3 linked regions of the Homo sapiens genome follow. The protein of the gene in region 3 interacts with the protein of the main gene of each other region in a pairwise test. Each region holds a gene or a part of one and is shown on either strand. Other genes may lie near its edges. The genes, in order: MRPS6, PRKRA and CEP126.

Region 1 (3,659 bases), on a different chromosome or scaffold from region 3:
ATACAGTTGTACAATTAGTCACCCAGAAATTCCAATACTATGTTTTTCTCAGTTTGCAAGTAGAAGTTGATTATGAGTATCTACTTTTGTACTTCCAAGTTTGGGCATTTAGGAATGTAGTTAACTAGTGTTTCTAAGAAGAAATTTATTTTCAAGTACCATATAGCTTGATTTTTAAAAAAGTGTGTATATAAAAAAAGTTATTTCTATTTTCTGTTTTAGCGTGAAAAGTAGGTAAAAGTGTGGTTAAATTCTGAAATATGACGGTAAAGTAATGGATGTTGTGAAACTAGGCCTTTAAAGGTGACAAGCAATTTGAAAAACCAGTTGTTTAGACCAGTCTTAGTTCATATTTATAGAAGAGTCTCTGGAATAAAAAGATTTTAAAAGTCCTGTTACACCCATATCAGATAGCATCAAGAGAGTTTTATTCACTTCTGGAAAACACAGTATTCAAAGGCTGTAATGTGAAAGGACATAGCCGCAAAGGAGAGACCAAGGCTGCAGTCCCAGGTAGCCTCATTTCAGTGTGAGGAAGACCTCTGACAATGGAAAAAGAAATGGATTGCCTGTGAGATGGTGAGGTCTATATCCACCTCCACCCTGCCCCCCCTGCAATGAGAACTTTGAGGTAGATGAGGAGAAGGGGTCATGTGTTTGGTGAGTGAGCTCTCTTGTGAGTGGGAAAATGGTTGAAGCCCTTTGGTTTCACTTGATAATTAGATTTTAAAGGTTGGTATTTCAGTTAGGTAAAAGACTGAAGTGCCAATACATGAATGGTAAAGCCGCATACTGTATAATGTAGAGGAGCTTAGGAAAAAAATGAAACTTTGTAGACACTTTTTATGCCTTGGGTATACAGGAAGAAGAAATCTGAGGAAAGAAATCTGTGCAATACATAAGTATTTTGTGGTTACTTTAGGAACGCTAATTACGTCTCGTGCCCTTTTCCCAGAAGGTGTTCACAGTTGGCATAGATTATGAAAGCCCTGGGATAATACTTTTCCTGAAATCTTCTCATTGGCGTTCAGGAATTTTTACATGAAGAATTAAAGGTTAATGGCTTAATAACTAATTCACTTGCTAAATGATTCCATTGCATGTACAATAAGATAGCATTTATATATATATATCTTCATATGTTTTTCTAATAGGAATAAAGAAGATAGCTATTTTGGAAATCTTAAGTTCTTATTAAAACAAACAGTAATTTTTATGTTTAATACTCAACGCAGATTATATTTTACATTTAGATAACTCATTGAAATAGTACTTTGGTAGGGTAAGGAGTTTTGTGTAATCTGAGTTTGAGTTCTGACTTGGTTTAATTTGAATATAGAAAAGTATAATCAGTTCCTAAAATGTAGAAAACAGTTGGTTTTCTGGTAGAGTGATGAAGAGTTTTTCTCTAAATGCAAGCCTTTTTTGATTAGAACACCTGGCAAAAGTTTTGTATTTGTTCTAGAGTTCTATTCAAGTTAGGATGTTCTGAAAGTAATGCCTATGAAGTGCCTGTATTTTAGATACCCTTTGGAGATGGAGGGTGCTAATAAACTGAAGTATGAGTCAGGTCAACCCTAGGTCCTTGTAGTTTGCTTGGCAAGCATTTGATAACTAGGAAATAGTGAAGTTTCTGCTGTGTGTTGGTGGGAGACATCAGTTCAAACGGAAACATCTAGCTGTCAAGTGGTCTTTTTTTTCTTCCCATGGGCCCTCCCTAAACAGCTTAGCCTTGTATCTTTAATAATCTCTCTTTGTGTTTTATCTGCTTGAAACCAGGCAACTTAAAATAGTTACCTAGTAATGGAAGACTTGACCCTGTGAACAATGTTATACTTTCATTTGGTATTAAATTTTCTTGGGTTACAGCTTATTGCCGCAGCAAGCTATTGAAGAAGGAAGGAGTCCTGTTCCTGCCCCTGAGCTACAGCTAAGGTACAAGGAATGGCTTGGGGGTAAGGAGTCCTTCCTCACCAGATATGGTTTGTATGTATGAAGACTGCTTGTCAGAAGTTGACATTTTGCACTAATTTTTTTTCTTAATTCATGACTCACACATTCAATACTGATGTTTCTAGATTTTAAAAATCTAGGTTATATCTAGTATTATATGCAGACTATTGAATCTTCTAACCTTTTAGATTATAAAATCAGTTTCAAAAAATTAAGAGTTCAAAAGCAATGACGGGAAAATTCTGAAGTAATATTTTTCATCTAGTGCCTTTGCTGTGTTTGTACTACTACATGTTTAACTCATCTAAAAGAAACCTGGAATACCATAATGGGGTTTAACATGAAGGTGGAAGGAAGGGTAGAGAACAAATGATAAAATACTGTGTGATTACTCATGTTATAAAAAGTTGTTGCAATTTGATTATCAGACTTTTCCTATTTAATGTTCTTAGCTTTGTGTTAGAATTTCCAATATACTCATGAGTTTATCTGTTTTTAGTGGAAGGCAATATTTTTAAGACGTGTTATCAACACATGTAGTTACCTCTTAGGGGAATCCTTACTTAAGGAATTAGTCAAATGAATGTCTGGTAAGTTATCAATTTGTCTAAAGGAAGAACTACCCTTGGGTTTGGAAAGTGACAGTTAATTCAGCCTCTTATCCTTTTTGTTGCTTTGAAATTAGAGCAAGAGTTGGCAGCCTGTGGCTTCCGGGCCAGATCTGACCTGTCACCTATATTTTTGTGGCTTGTGAAGTAGGAAAAGATTTTACAGTTGAATAGGTGGGGAAAAAAACAGCAATACTTTATGGCACTTGAATTTCATAAAACTTTCACATTTCAGAGTCCATAAGTAAAGTTACATTGGAACATGACCCTGTTCTTTTGTTTATATTTATTATCTAGTCCTTTACAGAAGAAATGTGCCAGCCCCTGATTTAGAGTATATAGACACAATTTTCTAGGTGCATCATTTTTCTTGGCTTCTTATGCTGCTGTTTTCTGATGTTACTCCCTTGATTTCTCCCTTCTTCTTCTTTCTGTTTTTTTGAGACAGAGTCTTGCTGTGTTGCCTAGGCTGGAGTGCAGTGGCACGATCTCGGCTCACTGCAACCTCTGCCTCCTGGGTTCAAGCGATTCTCATGTCTCAGCCTCCCAAGTAGCTGGGATTACAGGCATGCGCCACCAGACCCAGCTAATTTTTTTTTTTTTTTTTTTTTTTTTTTTTTTAGTAGAGATGGGGTTTCACCATGTTGGCCAGGATGGTCTCAATCTGACCTCGTGATCTGCCCGCTTTGGTCTCCCAAAGTGCTGGGATTACAGGCCCTCTTCTCTTTATGTACAATTCCATTAACCTTCATGTGGATGATTTGCCACCTTTTTTAACAAGCTGACAACTCTGGCATTTTCTGTTCTCTTCTGTGCTGGTTATGGCCTCCTGGGTATCCCCTTGGCACTGCAAACTCAGTGTGGTTAAGAACTTAATGTGTTGCCTATCCCCAAAGTTGCCTCTGTTATTGCTTATTTCTGTTTATCGCTTCTCTGTCTTCTGTCATCTGGGGCTGAACAAATGCAGTTCTTTCTTTTCCTGCAGTCTCAATGCCATATAGTCTTCTCTGCCCTAGTTGAACTGCTCATGTTGTTTGTTTCTTCCTTGGACTCTTGCAGTTTCTTAGCTGGTCTCCTGACATACTACTGAGGGGAGGA
Region 2 (3,421 bases), on a different chromosome or scaffold from region 3:
GGTGAAACCCTGTCTCTACTAAAAATACAAAAATTAGCCAGACAAGGTGGCGTGCACCTGTAATCCCAGCTACTCGGGAGGCTCAGGTGGGAGAATCACTTGAACCCGGGAGGCAGAGGTTGCAGTGAACCGAGATCGCGCCACTGCACTCCAGCCTGAGTGACAGAGTGAGACTCTGTCTCAAAAAAAAAAAAAGAAAAGGTGGCTGATGAGAGACCATTCATCCAATAAATATTTATTACTGTCTACAGTTCATTGAGGGTTTAGAATACAGAGATGAACGACCCATGTCATGAATAGGACTATGGAGGATACAGAATCTGGGGGAAAAAAGGAAACCCAAGATAAATTTTTAGATTATGAATTAATGATGCCTCTGAAACATTTCTTCCCAGTTTTGAGAACTAAATAGTTCTTGTAGATATGGAAAGCCATCTAAAAACCACAGTCTGTTAATTTGGCTAGTTTATATGCAGCTACCTTCAAAAGAACCTAGATATTCTCCAAAGGAGATATACAAATGGGCTGGGCAAAGTGGCTCACACCTGTAATCCCACCCCTTTGGGAGACTGAGGCATGAGCATCGCTGGAACCCAGGAGTTTGAGACCACCTGGGCAACATAGTGAGAGCCTGTCTCAAAATTTTAAAATTAAAAAAGAAAAATGACCAAATGACCAAAAAATACATGAAAAGATGCTCGATATCATTAGTCAATAGAGAATGCAATCAAAACCACGATAATAAGGTACCACTTCAAATCCACTAGGATGGCTATCATTAATGAAATGGAAAATAGCAAGTGTTGGTGATGATGTAGATAAACTGGAACCTTACACGTTGCTGGTGGGAATATAAAACAGTTCAGCCTCCATGGAATAAGCTTCTCAGTTCCTCAAATGAATTGCCATATGACCCAGCAACTCCACTCCTAGGAGTATAAATAAAAAACTGGTATTTAAACAAATGCCTATACACACAGGTATCTGTATATTCATAGCAGCACCATTCACAAAAGCCAAAAGGTAGAAACAGCCCAAAACATCCATCAGTGAATAAGTGGATAAACAAATTGTGGACTGTCCTTCCAATGAAATATTATTCAGCTGTAAAAAGAAACGAAGTTCTGATACATTCTACAACATGGATGAGCCTCAAGCAGAAGCTGGAGGGTCAGGAGAAAAGAACCTAGATACTAGAACTAGAAAGCCTCTTTACTCATTAAATAATCCCATTGTATCTGGATATTTTCCACTAAATAGAGTATCAAAAATAACATTTTTATTATGCCTACTTCAAATAAATCATACCGCACACGTTTCTATTTCTTCCTCTTTGCCCTCATTTCAGCCATCTTTAGTAAGAGTGGCTCATCAGTTGATGGGAAGAACGTTTGTTTCCTGGGTCAGGTATTGTTTTTAAAATACCATGACCCATTTACAGTATAAATAAAGAACTAGACTCTGCACAGACTTAAAACCTAGGAACATGAATGGACAACAGCATAAATACATACAATTATTATGTATCAATTAAACATTTTTTTTTAATAGAAGACACAAGGGAGGTTTTGCCTTGACCGAAGTTATTCCTGGTTCAAATGCCTCCTGAAAATGACTTCCTAGTGGAAAATACAATCTCTCCAGTCCTCTAGCAAATGGTTCTTTCCCTTTTGAGAAAGTTACTGTGTGGTTCAGTAATTTCCAAATAGTGTTCAACTAACTATATTAGAATTGCCTTGGGAGCTGTTATTTTTTTAAGTGTAGGAATCAGCCACCCCCAACTGTATATTTCTGATTGAGTGAGCTAGAGTGCAGCCTAGATATCTGTATGTCTTTAACACTGTCAGATCATTATGAAGTGTAATGTGTTTGAAAACTGCTACAGCTGAGCAGTTGTGGTTTTTTGTTTGTACAAGCAAAACAAAGATTGCGAGTGGTGTAGTATACCATGGAGGCTTAAAAAGAAAGACAATAATAAGAATTGTATTGTTTTTACAAAGGGATCCACTTTATACATATTGGACATTAATCGTCATCCTTGAATGTGTCATTACAGATGAACTGAGCGCCAATGGACAATATCAATGTCTTGCTGAACTGTCCACCAGCCCCATCACAGTCTGTCATGGCTCCGGTATCTCCTGTGGCAATGCACAAAGTGATGCAGCTCACAATGCTTTGCAGTATTTAAAGATAATAGCAGAAAGAAAGTAAATCTGGAGCAACTTAAAAAATCTTTCAGTAGCACATAAAAAGTTCCCCTCTGGCCCCTTCCCAAGTAAAACTTTTACCGTAGTGTTTATGTCTTGTTTCTAAATCTCTTCATAGATTCCATCAACACTCCAGATTTAATTATCTCCTCATAGTTGTTATTAAGCTCTTTTTAATGGCTTCAACTTTGTATCAGTATACTGTATTTATAAACTTTGTACCACAAGAGAGAGTGTAGCACCCATTTTACAGTGCCATGCACATCAGAGAAAGAAACTGCATGTTTGTTGTTGATGATGAAATAAAAATGCTAGCGACAGTCTTTCTTACTGGTGCTTAAGCTCTTCTTTGCACAAAGCTTTATAAAGGGAATTCAAAGGAAGCCCTTTAGAATTAGAGTCTTGAGGGACAGCACTAACAGGCCTTTATTAAGTATGATTGATTGTTAAATTTCAGGGAACATGATTGGTCTGCTGTGTATTTGAATTCATGTAACAAAGAACTGTTACGATGGGATTCTGCTCATTTTATTAAAAAGCTACTGACTTGACTGTCATCCTGTTCTTGTTAGCCATTGTGAATAAGATTTTAATGTTGATAATTCTGTTATTTACATATCTCTAATTTACTTTGAAATTCAAAGGTGAAAATAAAAAATGATGGCCTAAGTAAAATTTACAAACATACATGTAATGGGTTACTTCCTTACTTTCTCTAAGCGTATGCAACCTTGTATTTTTCTTTGACATAACCATACACAGGTGAATTACTAGTTTAAAAAGCATTTGACCATGCATGTTGGCTCATGCCTATAATCCCAACTCTTTCGGAGGCCAAGGTGGGAGGATCCCTTGAGGCCAAAAGTTTGAGACCAGCCTGGGCAACATAGTGAGTCCCCATCTCTACCAAAAAGAAAATCAGGTGTGGTGGCACACTTTGAGTCCCAGCTACTCAGGAGGCTGAGGTGGGAGGATTGCTTGGGCCCAGAAGATCAAAGCTGCAGTGAGCTAGGATCACAGCACTGCACTCCAGCCTGGGTGACAGAGTGAGACCCTGTCTCAAAAAAAAAAAAAAAAAAAAAAAAAAAAAGCGTTAGTAGAATTACCCAAAAAACCTTCCCAGCTTATTCAGTTCAGTTGCAAGAATGTTCCAAAGTGATGAGTGATTAAAAGGTTAGGAAATAAGTCTAATGAACAGATTTTAACCTTAC
Region 3 (3,659 bases):
AGTAGGAATGGAAATGTTTAAAGAAACCATCGCTGGAAATGTTTCAAATTTGATGAAAATTATAAATCCACAGACTCAAGAAGCCCAACAAACTCCAAGAAGGATAAGTGTATGCACACACACATACCACAGAAAGGCACCTAAAAATCAGATTAAAGCCAGAGGGAAAAAAGATATGTTACATGCAGGGCAATAAAGATAAGACGGACCGCTAAATGTAACTTATAAGCAAAACTTGAAATTGATCATAATGTTTCATTATTTAGTGGTGGGAAAAAATCTGAAGAAAAAAAAAGTATTGTTTATGAAATCAGAAGTTGCCAAACTTCTTCTGAGGTGATTTGGGAGATGAAGCAATTACAGACCTATGCAAATGGAAATCTTAGAGCCATGGATGTCATACTTATATCTAGAAGGATCTTCTAACGCAAATTTCTGTGTCTCACTAGATGTAACCTCAAAGGATGCCTTCCAGGCCTGATTTCATCATCATTATCAGTTAAAACAACTTATTTCCAAGAACAGGCATTGAAGTAGCTATGCTTTGTTTTGTTCCCTGTTTGGGTTGAGTGATTATCACTTTAAGAAGTATGCCAAAGGATGTGATAAATAGGGACTAAATGCTAAAAATATAAAACTCTCATGAATAATTTTTAAAACTTATTCCACAATACTAAATCAATAAGAACTAACTATATAAATTAAAATATTTTTATTCTGTAATTTATTTACTTTATTTCTTAGTTTACTTACTGGGATAGAAAAAGAAAGTACTTTTGTCTAATACCATAGTATGTAAATTTTTAAAATTTACATATTTTAGATAAATCTAAAATGTATGATAAATCTTAAGGGATATCAATTTTCTTTCCATTCAGCATTTTGACTAGATATACAATTTAATGTCTTCTTAAAATTTATTTCTATATATGTGATGTAGATTAATGCATGCTAGGTATGTGTGAGAAAACAGAAATATTTTTAAACATTTACCATACATTGAAGTAATTTTGAAATATTATTAAAGACTGACAAATTTCATGTAAATTTCAGTGAAATAGTGATGTAAATGTCTATGGAATTTATGGAAATTACTACTATGCTAAACCTCCAAAAGGAGTCATTAAAGTCAATAGTTTTTGAGCCTAAACCCATATGAAAATTACCTGGGGAATTTAAATAATACCAGTATATGGACCCCATCCAAGTATTAAATCAGCAGGACCCAGGTATAGATATTTTACACAGTTCTTTATGTGATTTTAACATGTAGCCAGAGTTAACAGCCTTACTACAGTCCACAAAATTAAGTTTTATAAAAAGATGTAGCCCCTACTAACAGGAAACTCACATTAGGATCACAGAGCTTTTAGGAGCCTCATTCAAGTCCAGTGAATGTTTTAGGAAAAAAATACAATTTATAAATAATTATTTTTCAGAATCTCACTTTCTATTACTAAGCCTTCAAGAAACTTCATACTCTAAATGGAATAGCAATAACAAAAATTTTTTTTAAGTTCTAACTGTGGCTAGAATAAGCAGGTATTACTTTAGGAGTTGAAATCAAAGCAAGCATACTATACTATAAGTCTTTGTTACCTCCCAATTTTTTACCTTGAGGATTGCTGCAGGGATAAGAATTATTTATATACCTATGATGTTTATAGTCATACTACTCTATATGCAAGGAGAATTGGGCTCAGTAACAATGGTATGTTGAATCGTTAATCTTGGCATTTAAAAGTTTATAAGCTATAAAACAATGTTCTTTTTTTTTCCAGAAATTTTGTGATGAAGTTAATCAGATAACCAATTCTGAAACCCTCTCAAGTATAGACAGTCTTGAGGCTACAGAGCATGAAGAAATATATTTAACACTTAATAAGGAGCATTCCACATCCATCCAGCGGAATACCATTTCCCTCAAACCAGCAAATATGCAATCAACTAATCTCAGCTGCTTTGATGAAGATAAACTGGCATTCTCTAAAACTCAACATATAAATAATTGGCTTACAAATTTAGATGCTTCAAATACTCAGAATGTCACAGCTTTCTCAGATATTTTAAGTAAATCTAATGTTCTGCCTTCATGGGAATATTTTAATAGTAAAGAACAAAATCCATCTCCTTTGAATGGAACAGTGGAAAGAGCCACAAATACTGCTAATAATTCAGTACCCTTTGTATCTAGCCCACCCATGTTTGTACTAGATAAAAAATGTGAAAAGACCTCTGAAACTAGCACTATGAGGACAACTGACTCCACTTCTGGAGCATTCAAAAGAGAGAGACCATTAGTTACTGAGAGCCCAACATTTAAATTTAGCAAATCCCAAAGCACTTCAGATTCTCTAACCCAGGAAGTGGCTACATTTCCAGACCAAGAGAAATATTCTGAATTAAATCAAGAAAATGGAACTACTTCAATTCCTACTTCATGTGTACCAGTGGCAACGCCTTTAGTTTTGCCATCTAATATACAGTCAGCTAGACCTTCAGCAAAGAACAGTATACACATAAAAGAAATTGATGCAGTGCAGTGTTCTGATAAGTTAGATGAATTGAAAGATGGTAAAGAAGAAGAGATAAAATATTTTAATTGCAATAAGGAAGAGTTGCCTTTATTTTCAGACAGTTTTCAAGATGCCTATATACCTCACAATCCTGATTCAAAAGATGAAAAACAAAAATTAGCTGAAACATCATCCTTGTCTAATGTAACTTCTAATTATGACTTTGTTGGCCAGCATAAGAAAATGAAATACAACATCCATGAGAGAAATGGTGTGAGATTTCTTAAAAGTATTTTAAAGAAAGAATCTAAATATGAACATGGTTATCTTAAGGCATTAATTATAAATCAGAGCTTTAAGTTTGGAAATCAAAAAGCAGCAGCTATCAGAGATAGTATTGAATTAACAAAGGAAAAAGGTGCAGAAATTCCAAAGACCATTAAAAAACTGAGGTGGTTTGATGAAACTAGCAATATAGAAAACAATGCTGAAAACAGTCATTCACTGAAGAATAAAACAGGAACAACTCAACAGCATTCTCAACAATTCCACATTCAAAGTGGTGCTGGAAGCAACATAATTAGTGTTTCTACTTGTGCTGTAAATTCTGCTGATACAAAGAAGTCCAGGGAGGATTCTATCTCTGAAAATGTTACGACTTTAGGAGGATCTGGAGCAGACCATATGCCTTTGAACTGTTTTATACCTTCAGGTTATAACTTTGCTAAACATGCCTGGCCAGCCTCAAAAAAAGAAGAAAGTAAAATCCCTGTACATGATGATTCTAAAACTAAGCAAGGTAAGCCACAAAGAGGTAGAGCAAAAATAATTAGAAAACCAGGATCTGCAAAAGTCCAATCAGGCTTTATATGTACAAACAGAAAAGGCGCTGTCATTCAACCACAGTCTGCAAGCAAAGTCAACATATTTACACAAGCTCAGGGAAAATTAATTATACCTTGTCCTCCTCCTCAATCTACATCAAATATTAGAAGTGGTAAAAATATACAAGTGTCTCAGTGTCAACCAGTAACTCCTGAAAATCCTCAAAACATTATTACACATAACTCTTTTAATTCAAAACATGTGCTTCCAACAGAACACAGTTTGAATCAGTGGAATCAGGAAAGTAGTTCTCCACTC

What was found.
Region 1: the proteins of CEP126 (region 3) and MRPS6 interact in a two-hybrid assay, tested with the Homo sapiens proteins (one large-scale study listed by BioGRID and IntAct).
Region 2: the proteins of CEP126 (region 3) and PRKRA interact in a two-hybrid assay, tested with the Homo sapiens proteins (one large-scale study listed by BioGRID and IntAct).

Annotation. Positions count from the first base shown.
Region 1 is NC_000021.9:34,076,452-34,080,110, forward strand, and holds part of MRPS6 (small ribosomal subunit protein bS6m), read left to right. Parts: intron 1-3,659.
Region 2 is NC_000002.12:178,430,890-178,434,310, reverse strand, and holds the end of PRKRA (interferon-inducible double-stranded RNA-dependent protein kinase activator A), read left to right. Parts: intron 1-219; exon of another isoform or gene 220-929; intron 930-2,056; coding exon 2,057-2,214; 3' UTR 2,215-2,897; downstream 2,898-3,421. UniProt on the Homo sapiens protein: Activates EIF2AK2/PKR in the absence of double-stranded RNA (dsRNA), leading to phosphorylation of EIF2S1/EFI2-alpha and inhibition of translation and induction of apoptosis.
Region 3 is NC_000011.10:101,959,960-101,963,618, forward strand, and holds part of CEP126 (centrosomal protein of 126 kDa), read left to right. Parts: intron 1-1,781; coding exon 1,782-3,659. UniProt on the Homo sapiens protein: Participates in cytokinesis. Necessary for microtubules and mitotic spindle organization. Involved in primary cilium formation.